4 linked regions of the Homo sapiens genome follow. The protein of the gene in region 2 interacts with the protein of the main gene of each other region in a pairwise test. Each region holds a gene or a part of one and is shown on either strand. Other genes may lie near its edges.

What was found.
Region 1: the proteins of PIAS2 (region 2) and MX2 interact in binary tests that used the Homo sapiens proteins (3 or more experiments, as listed by UniProt).
Region 3: the proteins of PIAS2 (region 2) and HNRNPCL1 interact in binary tests that used the Homo sapiens proteins (3 or more experiments, as listed by UniProt).
Region 4: the proteins of PIAS2 (region 2) and KIFC3 interact in binary tests that used the Homo sapiens proteins (3 or more experiments, as listed by UniProt).

Annotation. Positions count from the first base shown.
Region 1 is NC_000021.9:41,404,754-41,409,893, reverse strand, and holds the end of MX2 (interferon-induced GTP-binding protein Mx2), read right to left. Parts: intron 3,151-5,140; coding exon 2,896-3,150; intron 1,904-2,895; coding exon 1,661-1,903; 3' UTR 501-1,660; downstream 1-500.
Region 2 is NC_000018.10:46,885,476-46,894,748, forward strand, and holds part of PIAS2 (E3 SUMO-protein ligase PIAS2), read right to left. Parts: intron 8,057-9,273; exon of another isoform or gene 7,956-8,056; intron 5,580-7,955; coding exon 5,105-5,579; intron 1-5,104. UniProt on the Homo sapiens protein: Functions as an E3-type small ubiquitin-like modifier (SUMO) ligase, stabilizing the interaction between UBE2I and the substrate, and as a SUMO-tethering factor.
Region 3 is NC_000001.11:12,845,485-12,854,352, forward strand, and holds HNRNPCL1 (heterogeneous nuclear ribonucleoprotein C-like 1), read right to left. Parts: upstream 3,237-8,868; 5' UTR 3,197-3,236; intron 2,987-3,196; 5' UTR 2,806-2,986; coding exon 1,924-2,805; 3' UTR 1,893-1,923; downstream 1-1,892. UniProt on the Homo sapiens protein: May play a role in nucleosome assembly by neutralizing basic proteins such as A and B core hnRNPs.
Region 4 is NC_000016.10:57,757,545-57,764,491, forward strand, and holds the end of KIFC3 (kinesin-like protein KIFC3), read right to left. Parts: intron 6,704-6,947; coding exon 6,599-6,703; intron 4,727-6,598; coding exon 4,596-4,726; intron 3,993-4,595; coding exon 3,869-3,992; exon of another isoform or gene 3,771-3,868; intron 3,628-3,770; coding exon 3,498-3,627; intron 3,412-3,497; coding exon 3,182-3,411; intron 2,873-3,181; coding exon 2,738-2,872; intron 2,293-2,737; coding exon 2,184-2,292; intron 1,610-2,183; coding exon 1,605-1,609; 3' UTR 1,581-1,604; intron 1,366-1,580; coding exon of another isoform or gene 1,340-1,365; 3' UTR 673-1,339; downstream 1-672. UniProt on the Homo sapiens protein: Minus-end microtubule-dependent motor protein. Involved in apically targeted transport. Required for zonula adherens maintenance.

The sequences.
Region 1 (5,140 bases), on a different chromosome or scaffold from region 2:
TCTTTAAAGAGGTGATCAAGCTTAAATGAAGCCCTAAGGGTGGGGACCTGATTCAAGAGGACTGGGATCCTTGTAAGAGAAAAGAGAGAGGCCAAGCATAGGCCTGGTGAGAAGGTGGCAGTCTGCAAGCCAAGGAGAGAAACCTCAGGAGAAACCAAACTAGCAACACTTTGATCTCAGACACTTCCAGCCTCTGGAGGTGGGAGGAAATAAATTTCTGTAGCTTAAGCCACCCAGCATGTGATATTTGTTATGGCAGCTATAGCAGACTAATACACTAGCATTTGAACACAAATCAAAGAGACCTCTGCAAGAGAGCTCTTGGGGATGCTGGTCAAGCTGTGATTTTTGACTTGAACTTTCTTTTCCAACATCTTTTACAGCAAATGAAGAAAGAAATTCACGTAATCTTTCTCGTCTGTACCCCTGAACAAAGCTGAATGTTTTTGAGGCACTCTTTCCATCTCAAACTTGGGTTTTAAAACAAATCAGCAATGATATTTATTCTATTGCCTTTTTATTAAGGAATCTATATGTTCATCATTTGAAACATACAGGAAAACATGAAGAAGAAAAGAAAATTACCCATAATGATGATCACTGGTGTGAAGTTCTCTCTCTCTCTCTCTGTGTATGTGTGTGTGTGTGTGTGTGTGTATTCAGAGACAGAGTCTCACTCTCACTCTGTCACCCAGGCTGTAGTACATGGTGCAGTCATGGCTCACTGCAGCCTCAAAATCCTGGGCTCAAGGGATCCTCCTGCTCCAGCCACCTGAGTGGCTGGGACTACAGGTGTGCACCACCATGTCTGGCTACTTACAAACAAATTTTTTTAGAGACAGGGTCTCCCTGTGTTGCCCAGTCTGGTCTTGAACTCCTGGGCTCAAGTGATCCTTCTGCTTCAGTCTCCAGAGTCACTGGGATTACAGGTATGAGTCACTGAACCTGGCTACGTTTTTAAAAAGTTTCTTTGCTTTATTAAATTCCTCTTCAAGACTTAACAGAACAATGGAAGCTCATCATAATCAGGGAAACAAGAAGAAAAGAGAATCACTCAGGCTCCTTTCTGGCGGGGGAGTGGAGAGGCTGGGAAACACAATGACAGTGAACCATGGGAAGCAGGGGGCATGGCCACTGGATCTGAAAGGGACCGGCTAACAGTCACTAAATGTCCAAGGCCTGGGCTTGAGCAATAGCCTCAGGTATCTCCATCACTTACACAGCACTCATTCGTTCAGTGAGATGTCATTTATTAAGCAGTTACAATGCTGCAGGTGCTGTGCAGGAGACTGGACATACAAAAGAAGAATTTGACCCAGACCTTCCCCCTCTGGGGTCTCATAATCTTGTAGGGGGAAGGGAATACAAATACAAATTAGCGAAGAATGATAGCAGTATCTTAGGACACTGTAACTGTGTGCTACGGGACCCAAGGACTGGAGAGCCATCCCTTCGTGAAGGTCAGGGAAGAGCTGGGTGGTGGAGAGAGCTGAGCCTGTGTGGACCCCTGATGCATGCTCTGATGCTGAGGGAGTACAGTAGAGATGGACACTGATAGTGACAGAAGAGTTTGGCCCCAAAGCAGAAGCGGCATCCTGCACCGACTCCCCTTAGAATGAATGAGTACGCACAAGAAAACAACCACAGGCATCGCCGCCCTTCAGTGGATCTCTTTGCTGGAGAATTGACAGAGTGCGTGTCGCGCCTGAGTGAGCCGGTAAATTCTCTCCTTAAGGATTCTTCTCTTGGTAGCGGTCTCACTCTGCTCTTGAAGCAGCCAGGAATAGCGATTTTTTTCCTGTAGTATCTGCATCATGGCTTTCTGCAAGGAGTCACCATTCTCTCGGAGCATAAAATACTGAATTATAAATGGGATCTGGTTGGCGAGACGTTTGCTGGTTTCCTGGAAGAGGGAGAAAGAAGGGTTTGCTGGAGTGGTCTCAGCCCAAGGCCTGTGGTTGCAGAGAGAAGGCATGGAGTTCCTGGATGCGCACATGGTTGCCTGGCGAAGCCCTGGTGGTCTCGCCCACCTCCACTCCGGTGGTCAGCATCAAGCCCCGTGAAGGTTCTATTTGCGCTGACCCCTCTTTACTTCCAGGCATCCCCTCTAGCACTAAGAAGCCCCCTGGTAGGCTAGCAAGCCCATATCACCTCTGGGCATCCCCACAGCTCCTCCCTGCTGGAGAAACTCCCCCAGCCCAGGACTCCCCTGGCTCCCTTCTGGGTATGCACCAGGGCCGTTTCGAATCCTCCCCTCATTCCTTCTTCATAGGCATAGCCAGTATGCCTGGCAGCCAGGTGCCCATGGCTGGGAAACCACTCTATTCTGATTGAGAAAGGGCTTCGGGAGGTGGGTGTCTTTGCAGTTTAAAAGCTATTTTTTCTTCCTGGGAACAGTGATACTTGCATATTGGATAGACAGTCAGAGGCCAAAAAGTTCACTGGGTCACAAAATCTAGGGAAAGGAAATTTCATTCCTATCTTGTGGGGCTGGCAAGTGTGGCATGTTAGTGCCTTCTGAACACCAAGGAAAGCTAGTTTATAGTCACAATCGTTGACGTTTGTTGTATTTTGCTGTATTCTGATCATAGTAATTTTGTAATTCATGGACCGCATAAGAAATATAAGGAATTTTGGGGTCAGAATTAATTTTGAGTACACGCTCTACCACTTTAAAAATTGATTGTGGGCAAATTAATTAAAAGTGCCTTCATAGGGTTCATGTAAAATTATAAATGAGAAAATATATAAGTAGTTTATCATAATACAGAAGGGCTTAATACATTGTAGTGGTCCCTCCCTCCTTCCCTCAGCAAAGCCTCTCTAGGTTAGCATAGCCCCTACTCAGCTCTGCAAATTTCAGAGAGCACGGCTCCTGCCCCGCCGGGAACTCACCAAGAAGTAGGCATTCAGGTGGATGCCTATTTCAGTAAAGGAGGAAACCGAAGACTCATTACTGGGAAAATGAGAGTTCAACTTCATATTCTGTGAAGGCGTCCCCAGAGGGTTAAAAATCTCTTCTCGGACTTTCTTCAGAACAACACTGTAAATCTGATCTTGACAAAAAACCATCTGCTCCATTCTGAACTGAAGTTGGATCATGTTTTCTGCCTTTGCTGTGTGTTTCACTTTTATGTCTTCAATCGTGCTCTGGTTAGATAAAAAAGACAAACACATTACTTCTTTTTCTTCTTTCCTGTTGGCTTAAACAAATTTGGAAGTACTATTATGTTGAACTCAGAAATAAAACGAATCCATAGTCAAAGAAGTCCTGAGACTTGAAATGATGATTTTTAGAAAGTCCCACTTCGCCCTTTCTGTCCTTATGAACCCGGTTTCCTCACTCCCCACTTGCGACATACCTTCTCTCCTGCCCTTTCTTCCTCTCTGGCCATCCCCAGTCCCTCCTACACCACCAGCTTTCTGCTCCTTCAACAGGAACAGGCTTAGTCCATGCTGTTGGGACGGTGTCAGTCATTCCTGGGGTGCTACTTCTGCTAGAATGGTTCCAGTGCTGACGAACACTGGGATAATAGTGTGATATACCTGTTTCCCAGGAATCCCAGGACTCCTACATCACCCATGCAGTCAAGGAAGAAAGAGGTTGGCTGGGCATGGTGGCTCATGCCTATAATCCCAGCACTTTGGGAGGCCAAGGAGGGTGGATCACTTGAGGTCAGGAGCTCGAGACCAACCTGGCCAACATCGTGAAACCTCATCTCTACTAAAAATACAAAATTAGCTGGGCGTGGTGGCACACGCCTGCAATCCCAGCTACTTGGGAGGCTGAGGCAGGAGAATGGCTTGAACCTGGGAGGCAGAGGTTGCAGTGAGCTATCATGCCATTGCACTCCAGTCTGGACGACAAGAGCGAAACTCCGTCTCAAAAAGGCCGGGTGCGATGGCTCATTCCTGTAATCCCAGCACTTTGGGAGGCTGAGGCAGGTGGGTCACCTGAGGTCAGGAGTTTGAGACCAGCTTGGCCAACATGACGAACCCCCATCTCACTAAAAATACACAAATTAGCCAGGTGTGGTGGCAGGTGCTTGTAATCCCAGCTACTTGGGAGGCTGAGGCAGGAGAATCACTTGAACCTAGGAGGCAGATGTTGCAGTGAGCCGAGATGGCGCCATTGCACTTCAGCCTGGGTGACAGAGTGAGACTCCATCTCAAAAAAAAAAAAAAAAAAAAAGGAAAGAAAGAGGTGATGTAGCAGAGAAGGGGGGTCACAGGGTCACTGCCATGGACTGAACATTTGTGTCCCCTGCCCCCCAATTTACATGTTGAAACCAAAGTAGGAAGGTAATGGTATTGGGAAGTGGGAGGCAATTAGTCATGAGGGTAGAGCCTCATGAATGTGACTGAGGCCCTTATAAAGCAACCCCAGAGAGCGCTCTTTCCACCGTGTGAGGATACACAAGAAGGTGGTGGCCATCCGCAACCTGAAAGAGAGCCCTCACTGCCACCTGACCATGCCGACACACTGATCTCAGGCTCCCAGCCTCCAGAACCATGAGAAACAAATTTTTATTGTTAATAAGACACATCCAGTCTGTGGGACTTTGTGATAGAAGCTTGAACTAAGACTGTCATGTCCTGGCTTTGAGTTTCTTTTTCTTTTTTTTTTTTCTTTTTGAGATGGAGTCTCTCTTTGTTACCCAGGCTGCAGTGCAGTGGCACAATCTCGACTGACTGCAACCTCCGCCTCCCAGGTTCAAGTGATTTCTGGCTAATTTTTGTATTTTTAGTAGAGACAAGGGTTTCACCGGGTTGGCCAGGCTGGTCTCGAACTCCTGACCTTAAGGGATCTGCCCGCCTCGGCCTCCCAAAGTGCTAGGATTACAGGCGTGAGCCACCACACCTGGCCTAGGCTTTTGAGCTTCAAATAGACTTTTTAAAACTGAAGGCAGAAGCAGTGGCTTGAGAGTGAGAGAGTGAGTTTCAGAGGTGAAGTTTCACAGGTGCTGGTTTGTTTGTTCTTTCTCTTTTTTTTTTCTTTTTCTTTTTTTTTTTTTTTTTTGAGTATATGTGACAACTGTGAAAGAAAAATAGATTCTTGGGACCCCAAACTTACTATACTAAAGGGAAAGTTAACTGCCTTTCTTTTGTTCCCAAACAGAAGCTGTGATTTCACATGTGC
Region 2 (9,273 bases):
ATGTGACTGCACTCCAGCCCTGGTGACAGTGCAAGACTCCATCTCAAAAAAAAAAAAAGAAAAAAAAGAGCATATACTCATTATGGTTTTTTGACATACAGCTACTGGTTTCAAAATCCCAAGAGGTTCTGGAATGACATTTTTGACCTCATGTCTGTTTTTCGCGCCACTGCACTCCAGCCTGGGTGACAGAGCGAGACTCCGTCTCAAAAAAAAAAAACAGTGATAGGTAGGATTCCTGAAAAACATTGTTTTTAGTTCAAGGGTAGAAAGTGTATAAGCCATGAGGATACGTGTATTTCTGGCATTCTAACTGAAGCTACGACCAAAATGCAGGGAGTTTAGTTACTCTTCTAAACAAAATATCTCTGGCATTATTTTATCTAAGCCAAATGAGATAGTTTTGAACACCAAATATGAAAAGTTTTATTTTAGTAAATTTATAAAGAGCATACTATTTAACTTTACTGAGGTTAATAAAAGAGAAACTCTGTGATGAACAGAGCAAAGTAAGAAAATTTCTAGTTCTATTTGTGAAAAAAGCAGGAAGGTAAGGAAAGAGAAAAGGACAAGGCCTCTCCCATGTCTCCCTCTTGGAGTACCACTGAGCAAAAGCCTACTACAGCATCTTCACTTAGTCCCCCCCAGTCTTCTGTCCATGTCTCTAAAACACATTCCACTGTAACCACTACCCTACAGACCCTCTTATCCTCTCTGTCCTGTGCTTAGCCACATTCCTGAGGGGCCTCATGAAGCAGGGCTACCCAAGCCATATCACTAGTCTGAATCTTTCTCAGAATAATAGAAAGTAATAAATTTGCTAGTCCTTCAACATAGATAAGGAAAAAAAATTTTTTTAAGTAATAAATTTATAATAACTGCTGGGACAGAATATATAAATGAACCACGACATTGTGCATGATACTGTCCAAATGCCATGATAAAGGAGGAATTAGAAAACAAATTAGGGAAATACGTTAACCAGATAAATCAACTCTTTAAAAACAAGGCTAAAGATGAAAGTAAAATCATAAAAGACAGACAACCGGGTAATAAGCATTTAAAATACTTGCTCTTGTTGGCCAGGTGCAGTGGATCACACCTGTAATCCCAGCACTTTGGGAGGCCAAGGCGGGTGGATCACCTCAGGTCAGAAGTTCAAGACCAGCCTGGCCAACGTAACGAAACCCCATCTCTACTAAAAATACAAAATTAGCCCGGTGTGGTGGCACATGCCTGTAGCCTCAGCTACTCGGGAGGCTGAGAGAGGAGAACTGCTTGAACCCGGGGAAGTGGAGGCCGCAGTGAGCCGAGACAGCGCCACCGCCCTCCATCCTGGGCGACAGAACAAGACTCTGTCCCCCCCCTCCAAAAAAAAACAAATAAAATCGAATAAAATAAAATACTTGCTCCTGTTACTAATTTTAAAAATAAAAATTTAAGCAAGATACAAGTTTTCATCTAAAAATCACAGAGATCTGTTTTCAATAGCACCCAGTAAAGGCAAAAAGTAATGAGATATGACAAGCATTCTCTCACTTTGCTTGTGGAATTTAAACTGGCACTAAAATAATTTGGCAATATGTTATCAAGAGTCTAAAACGTTCTTTTTACTTGATCCAATAATTCTACTCATAGGACTTTGTACAAACAAATAATAAAACATGAACAAACACTCAATCCTTATTTCAAAGTGAACGTAATAAAGAGATAAAATGCAATACTCCACTTGCTTGGATCACCAGTTTTGCTAAAACATAAATAAAGCAAAAAGCAAAAAATTGAAAAAAAAAAAAAAATAGCCACATTGCCTGCCACTAGTCAGGCCATACTAACCCCACTAACTAGCTCTACCCCTCAAAACCTTCCGATTTAACCAAGACAGGCTGCAGTACAATCCTGTAAGACAGGTAAAAAAGCACACTGATATGTTTAAGTGTTTTCACATGACTGAAAATAAAAAGGGTTTTCCCAAGAAAGAAAAGAAAGCAATCTTCCACATCAACTATGAAATGTTACTTCCCAATTTATTTCATAAAGAAATTCAAATATATTTGTAAATAACTTCATTAGGCAGTAAGAATTATAACACAGCAATGCAAAAATTTGTTAGTCACATTGTAAGCAATTGATGGGCATTAAATAAAAGCTAAAAAACTGCATGTCAAACTCCCTGTGCCACTTTAGAAATAAAATTAAATATAAAAGGTTTATTTCTTAGAAAATCAGTTTAAAAGCTACATTAAATGGAAAGTAAGTCCCTTTATAAAAATATGAAAAGTATCAAAATACAAAATCAGGATCAATAAATAAGATTTGTATCTATTCCCATTCACACGGAAGCAATCTGATTTCTACACCATAAGAATGCTTGAGTAAGTTCTAGCCAGAGCAACTAAGCAAGAAAAAGAAATAAAAGGCATACAAACAGAAAAGAAAGAAGTAAAATTATTCCTGTTCACAGATGGTAGGCTCTTATATACAGTAAACCTTAAAGATTTCACACAAAAAACCTGTTAGAATAAATGAATTCAGTAAAGTAGCAGAATACAAAGTCAACACGCAAAAATCAATTGCATTTTTATAAACTAATAATAAATATGATGAAAAGGAAATTATGTAGTTTTTACAATAGTATCAAAAAGAAAAAATATTTCAAAATTAACCACGAAAATGAAAACCTGTACAATAACAACTATAAAACATTGCTGAAAGATATTAAAGAACACATAAATAAATAGAAACACAGCTCATGTTCATGTACTGGAAGACTTAATTTTTTTTTTCCCCATCAGCCTATGTGGGAAAAGAAAGACTTAATATTGCTAAGATATCAATACTACCCAAACAAATTTACAGATTCACTACAATTCCTCTCAAAATCCCAATTTTTTTTTTTTATCAGAAATAGAAAAACTCATTCTAAAATTCACGTGGAATCTCAAGGGCCCCAAATAGCCAAAACAATCTTACAAAATAATTAAAGCTGGAGAATTCACTCTTCCTGATTCCAAGACATATTACATAGCTACGGTAATCAAAACTGTGATACTGGCATAAAGACAGACATCTAGACCAATGGAATAAATCAACAGTCACAACCTTTTTGGCCAGGACCAGTTTCATGGCAGACAATTTTCCCACAGGCCAGGGGAATGGTTTCTGGATGAAACTGTTCCACCTCAGATCATCAGGCATTAGATTCTCGTAAGGAGCATGCAATCTAGATCCCTTACATGCACAGTTCACAGTAGGGTTCCTGCACCTATGAGAATCTAATGCCACTGCTGATCTGACAGGAGGTGGAGCTCAGGCTGTAATGCTCGAATTCCTGCTGCTCACCTCCTGCTGCTCACCTCCCGCTGTGCGACCTGGTTTCTAACAGGCTGTGGACTGGTGCTAGTCCACGGCCTGAGGGTTGGAGACCTTGGAACAGAGAACCTGGAAATAAAACCTCACATACATGGTCAAATACTTTTTGACAAGGGTGCTAAGATCATTCAGTGAGGGAAAGGACAGGCTTTTCAACAAATGGTGGGGAAAAACTGGATATCCACAAACAAAAGAACAAAGCTGGACACTCACCTAATACCATATACGAAAATTAACTCAAAAGAGATCAGGCTTAAATGTAAGACCTAAAACTATAAAATTCTTAAAGGAAAACACAGGGCAAAACCTTCACAGCATGAAGTTTAGCAATGATTTCTTGGATATGACACCAAAGGCATAGGCAACAACAACAAAAAATAAACAAATTGGAATTTCATGAAAAAATGTTAAGTTGTACATCAAAAGACACTATCAACAGAGTAAAAAAGGCAAACCACAGAGTGGGAGAAAATATTTGCACATTCATATATCTGATAAGGGATTATATCCAGAATATACAGAGAACTCCTAAAACTCAACAACAATAAAACAAACCAATTCAAAAATGGGCAAGAGACTTGGCTATACATTTCTTGAAAGATACATAAATGGCCAAAAAGCACATGAAAATGCACAATATCACCATCATTACAGACATGCAAATCAAAGCTACAATAAGATACCACCTGACACCCATTATAATGGCCACTATAAAAAAAAAAGGAAAATAAAAGTGTTGTTAAGGATGTGGAGAAACTGGAACCCTTGTGCACTGTTGAAGGGAATGTAAAATGCAGCTGCCACGGAAAACAGTATGGTGATGCCTCAAAATACTAAAAACAGAATGACTATGTGATCCAGCAATTCCACTTGTGGGTATACAGCCAGAAGAATTGAAAAGCAGGGTCTCAAAGAGATACGTGTATACCCGTGTCCACAGAATTATTCGCAATAGCTAAAATGTGGGAGCAACCCAAGTGTCCAATGGATAAGCAAAATGTGGTATCCTATAACACAGAAATATAGAAGTAAAACCAGAAGAAACAGCTAAAATAATTAAGGTTGTTGCCTCTTGAAAGTGAGATTGAGGGATGAGTAGTGGAGTGAGCAAAAGATTACTATTTTTCTTTAAAAATGTATACTATTGTATTATTTAGCCTTTAAAAGGAAAGAAATTCTAACATAAACTACAGCATGCTAGAACCTTGAGGACATTACATTTAGTGAAATAAGCCAGTCACAAGACAAATACTGTATGATTCCAACGACATGAGGTACTTGGAATAGTCAAAATCATAGACAGTGGAAGTAGAATGGTAACTGCCAGGGGCTAGTGGGAGAGGAGGAGAGGAAGGCTATTGTTTAATGGGTACAGAGTTTCAGCTTCAGAAGATGAAAAGAGTTCTGGAGATGGATGGCAGTGATGGCTGCACAACATTACCAACATACTTAACACCACTCAACTGTACACTTTAAAATGATCAAGATGATACATTTTATATTATGTGTATTTTACAATAAAAGAATTGGAGAAGAAGAAAGATCAAATGATATGAAATAAAGCTTCTATTAGATTTCAGTCATGGTTGCCGAATTTTTATCCGTATATTCAAACATTCGGCATTGATGCCTCAATTTCACTATATTAACAGCACATCATTAATCAATAGTTGAAGGTCTCTCATTTCATTTACTATCTTGTTCAGAAGAAACTGAATTCTCAAACACTTACCTAAACTCGTGGGCTTGATGAGAACATCAAGGACATCATAAAAGGGCAGATTTTTTAACTGCACATCAGGATGGACAGGAGGAATTGGGGGAGATGGCTGCTGCATCTCAAATGTGGGCTTAGTATCTTGAAGCAGCACAGAACCAACAGGAGAGGATGGTGAGTGAGGTGTAACTGAAGTGGAAGGCAACGAGTGGATTCCAGCCACGGCCAAGTCAGGTTCTACAGGTGATGAGCCACCATCCAAACTGAAAACCGATGATTTGATTGTGGATAAATCAGAAAGTCCTTCAAGAGTTCGTGGATATCGGCGTCTATACAATTCTCGGATTTTAATCTGAACCGCAGGGCTGCAGCCGCTCTTCAATAAATGCAGCGCCCTCATCAGGAGGTCATGCTTGCGTCCACTTTTATTCCGTCCAGCAAAGCCTAGTAATACTTGTAGTTCAGAAACCCTAAAACTAGAAACCATATTCTAAAAGGAAAGAAAAAAAAACATAAGCCAAGTCACCCTCAAGCATACAAAAATCCTATCTAAAATATAATGTAAAATGTGATTTTTCCAGCATTCTATCAATTGGCATGTGCTAGTAACAGCATTTCACATACCACTTAGAATCATTACCATTCATAAGACAATCCCGTAAAAATTACATTCAAGTTACGGTGTTAATTATATTTTGTTGTACAAGATCTTAATTTTGGTAATCTATAGTCTATTGGTTTCTACTAACCACTTCATTATCTGATTATGCTCTAATGCAAACAGTTATTTGCTTTATGACTATAAAATCTATCACCAATGAATATACTCCTTTTCAAAACCAACCCCTCCCAATATACAATGTAATGTTTGTTACAGAATTATCGCCAATTAACCAAACAAAAAATCAGATTTTCACAATGTTAGATGTGTAACTTTTGATGCTGAGTAGTAAATCCATAAAAATCAAGTCAGAACTGTGATCCAAAATGCAATGAATTTTTTACCCCAATTCAAACATTAACAAACAAACAACATAATAAAGATATTTTAAAATATTAAAGCTAAAAAATCACATACATCTTATTTAGCAGTCAAACTTCTAAAACAACTGAAATTCCCAGCTGGGTATCCAAATGAGAAAAAGACCTTTGAAGAGCAAGGAAATGAGCAGTCATCAATCTTAAAGGGCAACATTTCCTCCACACTACTCTACTGGCTTGTGCTTGGGCGTAAAACAAAGGTTATAAGCAGTTGCAGCTTCACATCACACCTTCTATTTTTTCAGCAAAACTTAATGAATATTTTTAACCCCTTGCAGCCTCAGGAATCCACCTACTTAGTGATTTCCAGTCAATTCTGAACTCAGAGGCAAATCACACTTGGGTCAGATACCACACATGCATCATCTAGCAAGAAAGAGGAAGAACACCTGGAGCTGACCAAAGCCCTGTCAGAAACCTACCCAGGAGAACTACCTGTGGTTTGGTGTCCCATCCCATCCTCATCACTCCCCCAACCCAGCCCGTGCTACACACTCCACAGTCACTTGGGATTCCTTTTCAACCTGCTTGTCTCATCAGTATAGTGGAAATGTGGGGCAGTTGCTCTGTACTTTTTAAGTCTCAGGGACGGCCCAGAAGCAACTGTTTAAAACCCTATATGGTTTTTAAATACTTGTTGGTATAAATACTTGCTAGTTTACTAAAATGCAAACAGATTTAAATATGCCAAAGTAATCCATATACACTGTCATAACTGTACTTTGTGTACTATATATGTCTCTATATTTCATAATGTACAAGTGAGAGAATATTAAATTGTAATCCTGGCAAGCCATTTTATACTCTAATTCAGTGCTGTCCAACACAAATTAATAGAAGACACACATTAAACCTCCTAGTAGTCACATTAAAAAAACTAATTTAGGCCAGGAACAGTGGCTCACACCTATAATCCCAGTGCTTTTGGAGGCCAACACAAGAGGATCACTTGAGCCCAGGAGTTCGAGACCACACTGGACAACATACTAACACCCCGTCTCCACAAAAATTTAAAAATTAGCCAGCCATGGTGGTGTGTGTGCCTGTGGTCCAAGCCACTCAGGAGACTGAGGCGAGAGGATCACTTGAGCCCAGGAATTTGAGGCTACAGTGAACTGTGATCACACCACCATATTCCAGCCTAGGCAATATTAAGACTGTCTCAAAAATAATAATAATAATAATGATAATTTACATTAACATAGTTATTTAACCCAATATATCAAAACTATCTTTTCATCTCAACATGCAATCAATTTTTGTAATTTAAAAATAATCATTTTTTAAAGTGTCAGTGGGATTTTTTTTATACTAAGTCTTCAATATCTGGTGTATATTTTACACTTACAATACATCTAAATTTGGACTAACCACATTTCAAGTGCTTAAGAGCCACATGTGGCCACTAGCTACCACACTGTGGTAGCTCTAAATCATACTCTAATAGAACACATACCACAATGTGTGTTACCTCTACAGTGCAGACAACAAAGAAGGAAAACAAGAAAACTTTTGGCCTATCTCATAACAAACCAGTCACAGCTTACTCAACATCTCATGCATTAAACAGAAGACAACAGCTTCTTGGGAAGGGTTTACCCAAGCAAGTAATACGATGCATCTTTCCCTCAATCTTAGTAAATACTTCAATTGATTGTGGAACACTAATACTAAAAAAGGCAATCACACAGATAAAACATAACTGATTTTTTCTAACTCAGAATTCACTACTTTGCTTCACTCCTTATACTTATTGTCAGATATTCTTCATTTTAAGGGAAGCTATTTTACAGAAATGACAAAACAAAGCACAAAGTCATCCTACCTAAGCTTGACTCTCAGAGGAATTTCTAGGAGGTCTCATATCTCATATTTCCAGTGATAACATTATTTGGCAAAGGATGTTAATGCAACTGGCTCTATGGGCTGTTGTAAATAGACAAACAAAAAGTAAGAAAGAGATAAGAGCTTAGACTATGAATGCGGAATCACAGAATTCTGAACAGCAGATGGGACAGTCTTTGCATTACAAAATGCTGCAAAGATAAAGTATTGCTGGACACATAGCCAAAGGTAATTAAGTCAACAGGGCCCTGTGAAAAACTTCAAGCCAGCAATCAGCAGTTGTGGTTCAAGCCCAAGCACCAAGACTTTGGACCCTGGGAAAGTCATTTCATCCCTCTGGTCATCAATTTCTATTTTAAAATAACAAACACCCCCCAAAAAAATCCCTCTCCTTGGCCAGGCACAGTGGCTCACGCTTATAATCTCAGCACTCTGGGAGGCAAGGCGGGTGGATCATTTGAGGTCAGGAGTTCAAGACCAGCCTGACCAACATGGTGAAACCCCGTCTCTACTAAAATTACAAAAATTAGCCAGGCTTGGTGGTACACACCTGTAGTCCCTGCTACTCGGGAGGCTGAGGCAGGAGAATTTCTTCAACCCAGGAGGTGGAAGTTGCAGTGAGCCAAGACTGAGCCACTGCACTCCAACCTGGGCGACAGAGTGAGACCCCATCTCAAAAAGCAAAAATCAAAAATCCCTTTCCTTTATTTAGCACTTACTGATAAAATAATCTCAAAGCAGCTTACTAAGTAAAATTCTACAAATATGTTGTTTGGCAAATCTTACCAGATCCCACTTCCTCTAGGAGTAATACCTATTTTTTCTTAACTTAGTCTTTCACCAAGTTTCAGGCCCTTCCCCCACAGTGAGTGGGTGTGGTGAGTAGAGAGGGTCACCAGAGCCCACATGGGGGTTAAGGTTAGCCTGCTATGAACACTACCAAGAATGGATTTCAGTTGTTTTTCTCCACCAACCTCTGATGTTGGTATCTTTAGTCTAATTTTTTCCAAGCGGTTTTTCCACTCCACTGCGCTAACTCTCAAAGGCTCCCAAGTCAGCCCACTTCAGTTAAAACTGTTATTCCTACAGACGAATTTCCCTACAGAGAAATGTGTTGGCATAATTAATTGTGTAAAAAGATACGTAATCTAAATTCTAAACAAAAACTAACATAAATTAAGACCAGAGTTTTAAGTCAACCTTGTTCCTTTATCAAATGAAAATAAACACAAAATTATTAAAAATTTTAAAGCTGGGATATTATATAATTGAAACACTACATACAAAGATGAAGGCAA
Region 3 (8,868 bases), on a different chromosome or scaffold from region 2:
AGGAATCTTTCCAACATTGCACTGAGGGTCCCTTGGTTTTCATACTTGTGACCAAGAATGAGTCTTTCAAAAAAATTTATGTAATTCTCCTCATTTTTCCTTTCAAAACCTTTGTCTTCCTTTACCTCCCCGAATAATCTCACATCTATTCCCATGGCTTTGCTCATTTCATAATAAAAATCCTTTTTTTTTTTTCCTGTGGAGTCTCTTTCTCTGTTAAGTAGACCATATATTTTGTTGCCACACAAGATGAGTAGCCTGGTTTTATGGAGAGAAAGGGACAAAAGAATCCCAATCCTCAACAGCTAGGGGTGATATGAAGGTCAGGATTATTCTTTGTCATATCTGCACCTGCATATTGCCAGTGAAAACCTGCAGGTCACATTAGGTAGACTTCCAAATTGATCATCTGTGGAAGGTCTTATGATTGGCTTACATCCTGTCCCTGAGTAAAGAATCTGATCTTGACTTCATGAGTGCCTGAGACTCTTCAAGTACTGATGAAGGCTTCACCCAGTGACAGTGAGAAGGACACTGATTTGATTCTGATCGTGAAGTTTTGCTGGTTGTCTTGCAAGGAAAATATTTTTGCCTGTCATGTTGTCATCTAAAGTCAATGATTGTAACCTCTGTATTGTCCCTTCCAATGGAAAAAACAAAAACAAAAAAGCTCAACTCTATTAGAGCCTTGCCAGGATAAAACAAAAGAAAATTAAAAAAAAAACAACTGATAGGAGGAGTCCCATCCCCTTCTTTCAACCTTTCTTATAAAAGCATTCCAACTTGCAACAAAAGACAAAATTGACAAATGGGATCTAATTAAACTAAAGAGCTTCTGCACAGCAAAAGAAACTACCATCAGAGTGAACAGGCAACCTACAAAATGGGAGAAAATTTTCACAACCTACTCATCTGACAAAGGGCTAATATCCAGAATCTACAATGAACTCAAACAAATTTACAAGAAAAAAACAAACAACCCCATCAAAAAGTGGGCAAAGGACATGAACAGACACTTCTTAAAAGAAGACATTTATGCAGCCAAAAAACACATGAAAAAATGCTCATCATCACTGGCCATCAGAGAAATGCAAATCAAAACCACAATGAGATACCATCTCACACCAGTTAGAATGGCAATCATTAAAAAGTCAGGAAACAACAGGTGCTGAAGAGGATGTGGAGAAATAGGAACACTTTTACACTGTTGGTGGGACTGTAAACTAGTTCAACCATTGTGGAAGTCAGTGTGGCGATTCCTCAGGGATCTAGAACTGGAAATACCATTTGACCCAGCCATCCCATTACTGGGTATATACCCAAAGGACTATAAATCATGCTGCTATAAAGACACATGCACATGTATGTTTATTGCGGCATTATTGACAATAGGAAAGACTTGGAACCAACCCAAATGTCCAACAATGATAGACTGGATTAAGAAAATGTGGCACATATACACCATGGAATACTATGCAGCCATAAAAAATGATGAGTTCATGTCCTTTGTAGGGACATGGATGAAATTGGAAAACATCATTCTCAGTAAACTAAATAACAAATAAACAAAACTAAACTAAACTAACAAATAAATAAACTAAATAAACAAAATAAGAAATTATTTTGGAGACAGTTGATAAAAACCATACATCCTTTTTACTGTTAAGTCATAAAGAGGTGTCAAAATTAAAAGGAAAAATTACAGGGTAAGACTTAGGACAACTACTAGGGGTGTCAAGGGAAGTGAAAATGGGACTAGGCACAGGGCAATATGAATTAATGAACATGGGAAGGACAAAGATGGGGAGAACAGTAAGCATGTGCTGAAGATACTAAGGGAGAGGATCTGGTGAAAAATTTGTTGTTAGACAAGCTCCTAGGTAAAGAAACAATGGGATAAGATTTCTCAACCCCACTATGTGCTTAAGAGTCATCCTGGCCATTGGTGCTGTCTCTGTCATCCTCTCCTTCCTCAGCCTCTTTTTCATCATCCTTGATCAACTCCAGCTGGTCATCCCCCTGATCTTCATTAACATCATCATCCAGTGGGTCCCCCTCCTCAGCAGAGTCTTCTGCACCCCCCTCAGACTCCATCTTCACATGAGTCTCATCTTTCTTCATGGAGCTACTGCTCTGCTCCTCTTCTGACTTAGCATTTTTCACCTCTACCTCTTGTTTGCTCTGTTCCTTTTCAATTTTTTCCAGGTTTTCCAGGAGAGAATCCACTTTCTGTTTTATCTGGGTCAACTCCTGCTTAATGGCCTGAAGGTCATCACCTTTCAACTTTCCAGACTTGGAAGATCCCCGCTTTCCACTCTTAGAATTGAAGCCACTTTTGCCCCTTCGTGAGGTGTTTCCTGATAGACGTTGACGTTTCGAGGGCACTACAGCCAGAGCAATGGGAGGAGGAGGAGGTACACGTGCTGGGAAACTGTACATTCCATCATAATAATCCCGTTGAAAGCCATAGTCCAAGTCAAAAGAGGAGCCGTACATCTCCGCTGCTGATCGTTTCACACCTGCGTTTCCTCGGTTCACTTTTGGCTCCGCAGCCAGGTTAATATCTACAACCTGGCTAGCAATCATTCTGCCATCCTCTCCTGCTACAGCAGCCCGGGCATTTTTCTCCTTATCATATTGAACGAAGGCAAAGCCCTTATGAACAGAGCAGCCCGCAATTTTGCCATACTTGGAAAAGATCGCCTCCACATCCGATTTCTTGACAACAAGAGTGTTGAGATTCCCAATGAACACACGGGAGTTCATGGAGTGAGGATCCATCTTGTTGGTAACGTTGCTGGCCATTGTGTTGGATGATAAGGTTTCTCAAAAAGCCAAAAACAGGAGGCGGGAGGGAGAAGAGATTCGATTCTAAGTCTCCTACTGCCGGGTTCTACGGGGAGAAACTGACTGCGGCTCGAGGCCAGAAATGCAGCCAAAACAGCTCAGTCTTCGTCTCTTCACAAAATGGCTCCCAACAAGAATTCTGAAATGATGTAAAGAAAAGCACAACAACATTTTTGAAATAAAGACAAAATTGCATTTAGAAAAAAAATCAAAGCTTCAAAGTGTTCATATGAAAAAAAGAAAAAAAGACAGGATATAGTTCTGTGCCGTCGTAGGCTGCACTGTCACCGTTCTAGACCGGCTGACTGTAGGTCAGATGGGAGTGTCCTTCCAGAAATTAGTGACTTACCAGATCTGGTTGTAGTTTAGACCTCTGGTTGTAGTTGTAGCTCAGACCTCAGGAAGAGCCAAGCAGGAACTCCAGGCTTGAAGACTTTGAGTCTGTCCTGTGGGTCTTTAGAAGCTTTTATTGACCTTTCTAATCACAACTCCCACCCACGCCCCTCCACATATCCGCTGCTAGCTTCCAATCAAAAAGCGATATCTGATTGCATTTCTGAAGCTCCACTCAGTTAATCCTGATTGGGTTTTTGGCTGTCCGAAGACTAATGGATTGAACCAGGTATCCATTCATATCACATATGCATATTCATTTCATGAATTAAGAAATTGACAGCGTTAGGGATAGAGTGGAAGTCAAGAATTCATTCACTCAAGGCCAGATGAGGTGGCTCACACCTGTAATCCCAGCACTTTAGGAGGCCAAGGTAGGTGGATCACCTGATGTCAGGAGTTCAAGACCCGCCTGGCCCACATGGTGAAACCCTGTCTCTACAAAAATAGAAAAGTTAGCCAGGCACGATGGTGGCTGCCTGTAGTCCAGCTACTCATGTGGCTGAGGTGGGAGAATCCCTTGAACCCTGGAGGCTGAGTTTGCAGTGAGCCAAGATTACACCATTGCCCTCCTGACTGGGTGACGGAGGGAGATTTTGTCAAAAAAAAAATGCATTCATTCATGAAATCCACAAACACTGATGGAATTTTACTGCTATGTCGCCTTCAGGTCCTGAGTGTGAGGCAGGGAAGGGGTTGATCTGTTCCGGACATTAGACAGAAAAATAAAACCTGAAAGTAGTGTTGTGGGGAGATCTTTGGCCACATCAAAATTATAAAAATGCTTTCTAGTTAAAACAACTTTATAAAAACGGAGTCATCCCTACAAAATAAGAATAAAGATCTCCATGTATGGAATGGTCTTGTGGGTTTTATATCACCTAAGGTAGCAGTTTCTTCACTCGTGCTGGTGGAAGAGAGGTGCCACTCAGGGCGTGAGTGGTCTCAGTGCTTAGGTTAAGGCTTCTTTGGAAGAAATTGAAACGATACCTATAAACTTTATAAATTTAATCAGTGAAGAAGGGAGGGGGAGAAACAAAAATAAACCAAGCTTGCAGCGCATTCAGCATTCACCATGAGGTCAGCTTGCTCTCTGACCTTCTTCCTCATGGTTGCTGGCAGCCTACTGTCCCCAAATCATTTAGACCTTAGATTACAGTTCCCCTTAACTGCCCTGCAGACAACAATTTAAGCCTTGTAAAACATTAACTTTTTCATTTGAGATATTCTTACGTTCTGCATGTCAGTGAAAGTACTGATGCCAGCTGATCTGAAGGGCCCTACAAGGCACCAACGCACCAAAGAATGCAGTTTTGACATCCTGATGACTTCATCCCTCTTAACTCTATATCAACTTTCCAGCCCCTTGCTATCCAGGATCCACTGGAAACCCTCAGTGGATCTCCTCCTTGGGGAGATGAATTTGAGGATCTCCTCCTAGCTTCTCATTTAGCCACCCTGTGATCATTAAACTCTCTGCTGCAAACTCTGCTGTCTCAAAATATTGGTAAGCTACTGTGCAGCAGGCATAGGAATCTGATGGTCCTGTAATAAAATCATGTCAAAATTGCAAAAGGAAGTGAGGGTAGAGGATGGGCTTGGTTGAGCTTGGTGTTTTAATGGGATCCTGGGAGTGAACCAAGACTTGGTAAACATGTTGGGGGTTACTGAGGGGGTGGAGGAGGAATCTATCCAATATTTCACTGATGCCCCTTTGGTTTTGATTATTAGGACCAAGGATGAGCCTTTCAAAACAATTTATATAATCCTCCTTATTTTTCCTTTCAAAACCTTCATCTTCTATTTTTCTCCCAAAATAATCTCACATCCATTCCCAATGCTTTGCTCATTTCAGGATAAACATCTTTTTTCTTTTTTTCTTACACAGTCTCCTTCTCTGTTAAGTAGACCATATATTTTGTTGCCACAAAATGTCATTTGGACTGCTTCAAACACAGGAATTTTCTGAATTTCATGTGAAACCCCTCCTCAGAAATATTTTCCTTACTCCAGGAGATTTGCTGATATATCAGGTTGGGGTGTAAACTGGATATGGCAGCCCTGGTACCACCAACTCTGTACCAAAGTCTACATTGATCTGGATCTCAGCTTCTCCATTTTTTATTTAAGGGTATTATAGAAAATAATTTACCAGAGAGTTATTTGAAGTTCCATCAATATGGAGCCATCAGAAATGTTCTCTATCCAGGTTCGGTGGCTCGTGCCTGTAATCCTATCACTTTGGGAGGCCAAGGCCGGAGGATAACCTGAGGTTGGGTGTTGGAGACCAGCCTGACCAACACAGAGAAACCATGTCTCTACTAAAAATACAAAATTAGCTGGCTGTAGTGGCACATGCCTGTAATCCCTGCTACTTGGGAGGCTGAGACAGTAGAATCACTTGAACCCGGGAGGTGGAGGTTGCAGTGGGCTGAGATTGTGCCATTGCACTCCAGCCTGAGCCACAAGAGTCTGGGACACCACCTAGATTAGACCCAGTTACACTAATGTTTCCTATGCATAGAGATAAGTTACCAGTAATGAAATCAATAATAGTCATAGGCCACCCATTTGCATCTATAGCTTCTTCTCAGTGCCGAGTCATTTAATCATAAATATTACCCAACCGTGTGTGAGAGCAGGTTCTACTATTAGTTGTGATCCTTCCTATTCATCTAAATGACTCCATAGGCAGCAATTGCTTTGGTTAGTGATAGTGGCTAAATTTTGAAGAGGAGACCTTAGAAAGTGTTTGCTTTGACTGGTGAAAGTACGTAACAAAATAAAATGTAGGCTTGATCATTTTGTGTTAGTACAAAACAAAACCAAGTCTCAGTCAATGGAAGGAGATCGAATGGAGTTTTGTTCCATTTTCTTAAAACAGCTGTCTACCATGTGATGATGTCTGCTTGTAAGAAAGGCTTTTTTCCTTGGTTATCCTTAATTTTAAGTCACCTGGTATGGTCTCATCCAATGCTGCTCATGGGCAGATTTCCCTTAGGGCCATTTTAAAAGACACAATCTCCAAATGGTAGGGCATGAAGGTCCAATCATCATTAAAAGCCTCCTTCACCTACTGGAAATAGTCTTTGAAAGGTCTCGTGGTACTGAGTCATATTGTTACTGAATGATGAGCTCACTCTCCTAAGTGCATAGAACCCAATACTACACCACCATGGTTTGAGAAAAGCAAAAAAGGCTGGGCACGGTGGCTCATGCCTATAATACCAGCACTTTAGGAGGCCGAGGGAGTCAGATCACAAGGTCAGGGGTTTGAGACCGCCTGGACAACATGGGAAAACCCTGTCTCTACTAAAAATACACAAATTAGCTGGGTGTGGTGATCCATGCCTGTAATCCCAGCTACTCTGGAGGCTGAGTCAGAAGAATGGCATGATCCTGGGAGGCAGAGGTTGCAGTGAGCTGAGATTGCACCTCTGCAGTCCAGCCTGGGTGACAGGGCAAGACTCCATTTTGGGAAAAAATAAAAAATTATTAGGAGTTAACTGGACCGGGCACAATGGCTCATGCCTGTAATCCCAGCACTTTAGGAGGCCGAGGCGGGCAGATCACAAGGTCAGGAGTTCCAGACCAGGATGACCAATATGGTGAAACTCCCTCTCTACTAAAAATACAAAAATTAGTCAGGCATCGTGGTGCACGCCTGTAATCCCATCTACTGTGGAGGCTGAGGCAGGAATCACTTGAACCCGGAAGGCCAAGTTTGCAGTGAGCTGAGATCACGCAACTGCACTCCAGCCTGGGCAACAGAGCAAGACTCTGTCTCAAAGAAAAAAATAAAAATAAAAATAAAAATAAAAAATAGTTAACTGACAGGGAGACAGGAGACAAGTTCCAAGCCTGTCTCCCCAATCTGGGGATAGTGGAGCAAGCTCACATGGCCTTTCCAACTGGTTTCAGGTGATGCCAATTCAAACAGTCAGCCAGGCTGTGTTAACAGTTAAGAGGTTAAACCTTTTTCCCATCGGACATGCCTGAGCAATTTAGGCTTTGCAACTTAAGCAATGGTTAATCTGTTGGAGTTGAACCCCTGGTTACACAGTCAGAGCTAAAATGTGCAGGGGATACATGAGGTTCTATTATCAAAGGCATAGGTTCTCCAGTAAATACTTTATGATCGGTGCTTCTGATTGTAGTTGGTGAAAAAAAATACCTTATGATGGGTCTGGCTGTATTTTCCCATAGGGGTGGTAAAAATTATATTAAAGTAAGCCAGTCTTACTGGGCGTGGTGGCTCACACCTGTAATCTCAGCACTTTGGGAGGCTGAGGCTGGCGGAACACTTGAAGCCAGGAGTTGACCAGCCTGGGCAACATGGTGAAACCCCATTATCTACTAAAAATACAAAAATTAGCTGGGTGTGGTGGCATGCCTGTAATCCCAGCTACTTGGGAGGCTGAGGCATGAGAATTACTTGAACCCAGGAGGCAGAGGTTGCAGTGAGCCGAGATAGCACCACTGTACTCCAGCTTGGGCATCAGAGACTCTGTGTCAAGTTTCTCCAGAGGTGCACCAGAAAGGAAACACATTTTATAATCATTTATTCACTATGACTATGGCATCAGCCTTTCTAAAAAGGTAAGCTACAACCCATCCTGAAAATGGACACACAATCACAAAAATTGTAGCCTTTTTACATGGCTCACTGTCATCATTGGTCCATGACATTCCCTTTTCTTGCCGCTATATGTGTGTATGTCTACATATTCATATCTATATCTACACCTATTTTTTATTACCATGATTCACTTCCACTCCCCTTTCCATAGATAGCCACTCTACTCTTTGACATAGCCTTGAATTTGCATGTGACCTCTTAGAAAATAAGTATATAGAAAGTATATGGAATATATACTTGAAATTTGTATGTGTATTTATATTAATCCACATATATGCTATAGTGTAGGGTGCTACAGAAGAGGGCCTGACAATTAATTGTCCAGTCCTAGACACTTTGGAGAGTGAATGGACATGCTGTTATAATTAATTATTTTTTTTTGGAGATGGAGTCTCACTCCGTCGCCAGGCTGGAGAGCAATAGTTCCATCTTGGTTCACTGCAAACTCTGCCTCCTGGATTCAAGTGATTCTCCTGCCTCAGCCTACCGAGTACCTGGGATTACAGGTGTCCACCACCATGCCCAGCTATTTTTTGTATTTTAATAGAGAGATAGTTTTGCCACTTTGGTGAGGCTGGTCTCGAACTCCTGACCTCAGGTGATCCGCCCACCTCACCTCAGGTGATCCGCCCACCTCAGCCTCCCAAAGTGCTGGGATTACAGACGTGAGCCACTCCACCGGGCCTTGTTATAATTAAGATTTTCAGAACAACAGGGGTGTATGAAGGCTTATAATCACCTTTACCATAGACCTTGGTCTCTCACCTAAGTTTGTAACTAATATATTTTTCAAATATAATAACAATAAAAATATCCTTGCTTGCCCTATGTCAAATCCAGCTCGAAGTACTTAAATAGATTAACTTATAACACTCTGTGAAGTCAATATTGCTATTATCCCATTTTATATGTGAATGAGCTAAGGCACAGAGAGGTTAAGTAAGTTGGGTAAGACCACACAGCCATTGGCCACTGAGCCAGTTTTTTTT
Region 4 (6,947 bases), on a different chromosome or scaffold from region 2:
GACACCCCCAGGATGCCTCCAGGGGCAGGACTAGAAGGGCACCTGCCCCTTCCTCTGAGCAGGGCTCCGATCAGCTGTCACTCCCTGCTGGAGTCCCCAGCACTGGCTGGCGGGAAAGGGCTCCCTGCTCCGTGGGCACTGCGACAGGTGGGCCCCCTCCTGCTCCCAAGGCAGGGACCAGGTACAGCCCCGCCCCGGGGTGGTCAGGGTCCTCGGCACTGGAGGAAGGTGGCGTGGACCTCTGGCCAGTTCACTGAAGAGGGAAAAGGCCAGGGCAAAGAGTGGGCAGTGGGTGGTGCCCAGCAGTAACCTGGAAGCCCAGCATGGTTTGGGCAAGGCTTTGATAGCCTTTGAAGCTCTCTCCAGCCTTAGTTTCCTTCCCATCAGTAACATGGAGGAATGCCCCTGTTGGGAGGTCAGTTATCGTGGGCACATGGTAGGTACCGCATGAGGCGACTGTGACCACAAACAACAGAGAAAGTGACCCAGGGTGGGACAGCGCAGGCTCCCCCCAGTTGTTTGTTAAGGACGCATGTCCCTAACTGACCTAGAGGACAGATCCCAGAGGGCTGTGGGGTGACCAGCCAGCGGGGGAGTCCACAAGACCTGCCAGTGCCCCGTCCCCCTAATCAGACCAAGAGGGGCTCACAGACCAACTTTTTCAGACCATACTTGTGTAAAAAGGCTTCTTTTATTTTAATAAGTAAAAATGGCTAAGCTTCCAAAAGTTCTTAAATAGGATTTCAGAGGGAAGAAAATTCGAGAGACCAGCGAGCCAGGCAGGTGAGCGAGCAGCAGAATCCCCCACCCGCTGGCTGCCTCTGCCAGCCATAAACACAGCACGGCCCCGTGGCGGGAGGCCATGCGCCTCCGCACACCCCCCAGCTGCGGGAACCCTCCTTGAAGGAGAGGGGCGGGGAGGGCTGCCATTGGTGCCACCAACCCACCCCAGTCCCCATGGTTCTTGGGTCTGCCCAGAGGCTCCTCGCCCACCCCCTAAGGAGGGGGCTGGCCAGCTCTGCAAGCTGAGGAGAGGGGCCGAGAAAGCCTGGGTGAGAGGCCCACCCTCCTCCACACTCCCGCCCTCCTCACGGGGCCCAGTTCGCTGATGGCCCAGGCCTGCCAGGAAGAGCAGCCACCCCCGCCTTTCCGCCCATGCAATTTGCACTCAGAGCCACAGCCGAGAGACACCGTTTCCTTCTGAACATGTTTCTCATCTTTGAGGGGAGACGGGGCAGAAGAAGAGCCTCCACTCTCGCCTCTACCTCCGGGGGTCCTGGCGCTGCAGCAGGGACAGGCCAGTGAGGGCCCAGCTTCAGGCCCAGCGGGGTCACATCCGTCACACAGGCAGTGGCCGCGACTTCCCTGCAGGGGCATGAGATCATCAGCCTCTTGTCCACTTGCCCACCGGCAGCCCACAGCAGTTGCCACCGAGAGCAGGAGGGAACCCAGCAAAAGCACATAGACAAGCGACAGCAGGGGCTAGACCCAGCTCTGAACAGCAGAACGTCCCAGCGCAGCCCTGCAACCCACTGCGGGCAGGCAGGCGGGCAGCCCTGGGCCACAGGCCCCACACTCACCTAGAGACTCTGCAGCCCCAGCCGTCAGGCTGAAATCAAAGTGACAGGCGTCTCACTGGTGGGCTTGCCTTGGGCCAGTACCCCACAAGACCCTGCTGCTGCTACCCCTTTGGACTCAAGGATGGGCCAGGCCCTCCCATGATCTGGGCTAAACAGGGGCTGGAGCCCTGGGTCCCGGTCCTGTGGCGGGGCTCACTCCTCACCTAGGAGGTAGGCAAGCCCGGCCCTTTCTACCCCCGGGGCAGCTGAGGCACAGGGAGGGGGCTGCAGGGGCTGCTCTGGAGGGGGCTTACTGCACAGGCTCAGCCAGCCCATGCTCAGAGAGCAGGGTCCCAGGGTAGAGTCAGCACCCCCGGCTGAGAGGCTGGGGTCTCCTTACACTGCCCCCTTCCCACAGACCTTCCATTTCCCACCTGCAGAACGGACACAGCACTGTCTGCCCTGACTACTGCCTGGGGGCAGGGGAGGTTGTAAAACAGGTTCTGGAGAAGGTGTAAGAACTTTTTAAAAAGGAAAGAAAAGAGAAAGCCCATCCAGGTAAGGGCAGCCTGGTGACTATTACCCTGGGGAGACTCCCCACCCACACTGCCACTCCAGGCTCACCCGAGGGCTGCAGCTTCCTCCGGATGGATCCAGGGCGGCTACTGGTCCCAGAGCTGGGGGCTGAGTGGGCCCGTGCCGAGGGCTGTGGCGTCTGACAAGCCGGCTCCCACTGTGAGCAGGGAAGGGCGGATGGGCGGGGGCCACGGCTGCCCTGGCTCCCCACCCTGCTGTGCTTCTCTCTACTCCCCTGCCCTGCCTCCTAACACCCAGTTTCCTCATCTGCAAAATGGGCATGATGTTTGTGCCCCAGCCTCAGTTATGGCAAGAATTAAATGAGATAATTCATGTAAAGAAGTCAACTAGTTACCACTGAGCATCTACTATGTGCCACCCCCACGGCCAGCTCGTCACCCCACAGGAACCTCCGAGGCCAAGAAGAAATACCTGTACTGAAGAGGCTGCTGGCTGTGGGTTCCAGCCGTAGCTCCACCCAACTCCGGCAGCTTCCCTGCCCCCACTGCTTCAGGACGTCCCCGCCCAGCTCCCTGCTCCTGCCATGACCCAAAGTCTCTGACCCAGGGCCACCTGAGCCAGGCCTGTGACAGTCCCCGTACCTCTAGATGCTCCTGGCTTGACCAGGACCCAAGCTCTGCCCTGCGTAGCCCAGGCCCCAGCTCCACAGAGCGCACCCTCTCAGCAAACTTGAGGGAATAGAGCGTCTCGCTAGTGTTCTTCTCCACGGGGGACACCTAGGGGACACGAGAGCTCACTGCCCACCCGGGCCAGCTGGAGGGGCAACAGGGTCACGAGAGGGAGCTCACAGCTGGGGCCGTCAGAAGGCTTCCTGGAGAGGCCTGAGGGATGGGGTGGGAGGGCAGGCAACATGGCAGAGGTGCTGTGGTCAAAGGTGGAGAGGAGGGACTGGGAGTTACACAGGGTGTGTGTGGCCAGGTCTAGGGGCGGGGAGGTCCATTTGCACAGCCTGGGGTGACTGGGTCTCACTGCTAGCGTAGCCCCTACATGCTAGGGACTGGCCCGCCCTAACCCAAGGTCCTCACCTGTACCACCATGAGGGTCTTGCTGTCACCACTAAGCGAATCCTGCAGCAGGTAGGTGAGCTTGGAGTTGCGGAAGGGCACGTGGCCCTGGCGGGAGCGCAGGGCAGCAATGACGTCCCCCAGAGCCGACAGCGACTTGTTGATGTGCTGCGCCTCCCGCAGGCGGCTGCCCTCGGCCCCCGACTTGCCCACGCGCTCCGAGCCAGCCAAGTCCACCAGGTTCAGCTTCCCTGCAGGGAAGGCACCCACCAGATCAGGCCTGCCCTGCCCCTTGGGGTTGTGGGGATCCTCAGGCCAGGCTGCCTGCCACTCTCACCCGTGGTGCGGAGGCCTGTGCTGCAGTCCACGCCTCGCACCGTCACGATGAGCAGCGCGTGCGAGCGGGAGCTGTGCTCGTTCAGGTTGGTGAACTCGGTCGTGCGATTAGTGTGGCCAAACTCAAACACCTGGGGGATTGGGAGGAGGGCAGAGGCACAGCGTTGAGAATGGGGTCCTCAGAGTCACCTGGCCCCAAGCACCCATGAGGAGTGGCACCACCCTCCGCAGTTTAGATGAGGAAACTGAGGCTCAGAGAGGCGTGCGGACTTGCCCAAGGGTGCGTGCTTAGGACACAGCAGAGCCTACATTCAAACCCAGTTGTGTCCTCTAGAGCAGTGTGGCTGTGGTCAGGGGCTCCCGCCTCCACACCTTGTTGATGTCGTCCACGCTCTGCACTTGGAACTCAGTCAGCCCTGGTACATACAGCTGCCCACTGCCGTCTGGGCACAGCCGGATCTCCAGTTTTTCCTGAGGCTCTTTCCCTAGCAGGTCCCTGGAGGGGCAGGTGAGACAGTCACCCCCTCCTCCCATTTCCAGCTGCTGTTTGCACTGCACCCAGCCCCCCAGCCAGGAATGTTCCCCCAACCCAGGAAGCCTTCTCCAGCCATCAGCTGAGTGCATCTCTCCTCCTCCAGCTCCTCCACCGCATTCAGCTGAAGACGTGGAGATCTCACTCCACAATACAATGAGCCCCTGTTGGCAGGGCCCCTAGCTGCCCACTCTCACCCATGGCCACCTGGTGTAGCCCACAGGTAGGGGCAAGGATTGCCTGGGTCTCAGAGAGAGCCCCTCCTCCCCCCAGAACCATCCAACCCACTGGGCTGAGTCAGGACTTGCAGCCAGGTCCCTTGACGGCCTCATCTGGTCCCTACACTCCCTTCACCTTGACGGCCTCATCTGGTCCCTACACTCCCTTCAGGAAGACCCCACTTCCTATCCCCCATTGCTCCAGCACCACCCCTGAGGATCCCAAAGCTGCCCCTGAGGCCTGCTCCCCACATACTGGGGGTCCCACCTGAGGACCTCGTTCCAGCACCACCCCGGAGGACCCCAAAGCTGCCCCTGAGGCCTGCTCCGCACACCCTGGGGCTCCCACCTGAGGACCTCATTGTAGATCTCCGCAGCGCTGACGGTGATGGTGTACTCCCAGTCAGACGCCTTCTCCTGCACCTCGGAGAAGAGCAGCTGCAGGGCCCGCTGGTTGATACCTGGGTTCTCAGCGGTCCCCTGGGGACAGAAGGAAAGGCCCCAGTAAGCCAGGCCTGTCCCCAAAGACGCTCGTGTGGTGTCTGTCCCCAAAGCCCCTTGACTACCCCTCACAAGCAAGCCTCCTTGCCCAAAGCTCTTACCTACCTGCCACTGTCCCCCAAAATGCCCTCCACCAGCTGCGGGCAACTGCACCTCTATTTCCCCACCATTAAAATGGCATCGCCCTGCCAGGACTACCCTGAGACTTATAGTGCAGCACTGGGATGAGGGGCCTGGCCCAGACCCCACACAGGGCAGCTGAGGGCCAGATGCATGCCTGGCCCTGTGGGGCCACCTGGGAGGGGCACTGGAAATGAATGACCCCGCCACTGCCCAGAAAGGCGCTCAGTCTCAGGGAGGCTGAGACCTGGGCTCTGTGGGTGGTAGAGAGGAGGCACAAGGAGGAGCGGGCCAGTGTCCTGGGGAAGGACGGGTGGGCCGGCCTTTCTAGAAGGAAACCTGGAGTCCCCACCCGGGACCTCGAGGCCCTGGGAGCCTGGCCCTCACCCCTCTTCTGATAGCACCTCTCACTCACTCTCTATTCCGGCCACAGGGGCCTCCTGGCTGGGCCTCAGGTGCCCCTGGCATGCTCTGGCCTCTTGGCCTCAGCCCTGCAGCTCCCTCTGCCCCGGGTACTCCTCTGACCGCCCCTTGGCCGGCTCCGTCATCTCCCTCAGGGAGGCTGCTCCCAAGATGCCCCCTCAGGGAGGCTGCTCCTTCGCCCAGCACCCCCAAATGCCCTGTCCCTCCCCCTAGTCAGTTCCGCATTCCTGGCTTTATTTTTCTCCCTGGCCTGACAGGACACTTGCTGATTTGTGTAGACCCTGCTGTCTCCCCACAGCCAGGTTGGCCCTGTGGGGAGGGCCCTCTGTGGGGGCAGGGACTGTTTGGGTCACAGCTGTGCCTGGCACGATGCCTGATACACCTTATGCATCAGCAGATACACTTGAGGATGAACGCTCTGATGTTCCTGGTGGTCACCTCAACACTAAGCAATCCCAAAGCAGAGCGGGGAGCCCAGAGGATGCCGCACACATCCCCTTCCTCCTCCTGCCTGGCCTGGCCTGCCCCCACTAACTAGTCTCACCAGTCCCAGAATCGAGGGAACAGCAGAGTCCAGATGGGAAATAAGAGGGCCGCCCAGCAGGCCTGGCTAGCCCCTTCCCCTGTCCAGACGCCACACCACCTGGCCTCCTCCTGACCTAGGGAATCAATCCCACAGCACCCCTCAGAGCCAGGGCTAGCTTTCCACTGCCCTCTGCCCACAGTCAAGATCCTTCCTAGTCTCAACGCCCCTCTCCCTGGCCTGCCACCTGCTCCACCACACCTGGGAGGGTGCCGGTGACGAGCAGGGAGAGGAAGCCTTGGCCTGGCCCCAGGGACCACCGGCAAGAGCTGGGCTCCCCACAACAGCCTTCATATGCCAGTCTTGCCCTGGGATCTCCTTGAGGACTGAGACCCGCCACTCATCCCAGATCCCCCAGGCCCGGCCCAAGGCAGCGGTAAAGCAGGAGTGTGCAGTGCACACTCAAGGTGAAATGCAGCCCTGGTCCTGAGAGAGGTCGGTGGCCTGCCCCAGACTCTGTCCCCAAGCCGAGATCCCTGTGATGATAGTCCCCCCTTGCCTCTCTCCCAGTCCTGCTGGGCCCATTGTGGGTGCCCTTGGGCAAGGGGGCCCCCTCTTAAGGCCTGGTGCCTCAGGGCTAACACAGATAACTACAGCCTCTGCTCCTGGGTTGTGAGGACCAAATGAGGCAAAACACACACTGCACAATACCCCAAGACCAATGAGGGAGCCCGCATTCCCTTCATGCTTCACTGTGAACCCCCACCCCATTGGGCAGCACCCACCTCCATCGTGTACGTCTTGCCGGCGCCCGTCTGGCCGTACGCAAAGATGCAGACATTGAAGCCATCAATGCAAGAGGTGACCAGGGCCTGCACCTCCTGGAACACCTGGGAGGGTGGTGGGAGGGAGGCTGGTGGGGGGGCTTCCAGGGCCGCTGGGACCACCAGCTACAAGTCCAGCCACCTCCCCAACCATGCTGTCCTTCAGCAACACCACATCACGTGTTACTGCAGTCACTCAGCTCACAATGATTCGTGACTCATGAGTCATACATTAGACAGTAGTGGGCAACCGGGCCGCCCAAAGACTGCAGGGAAGACAGGCCAGTGCCTGCTGCCCTTCCCCCAGCTC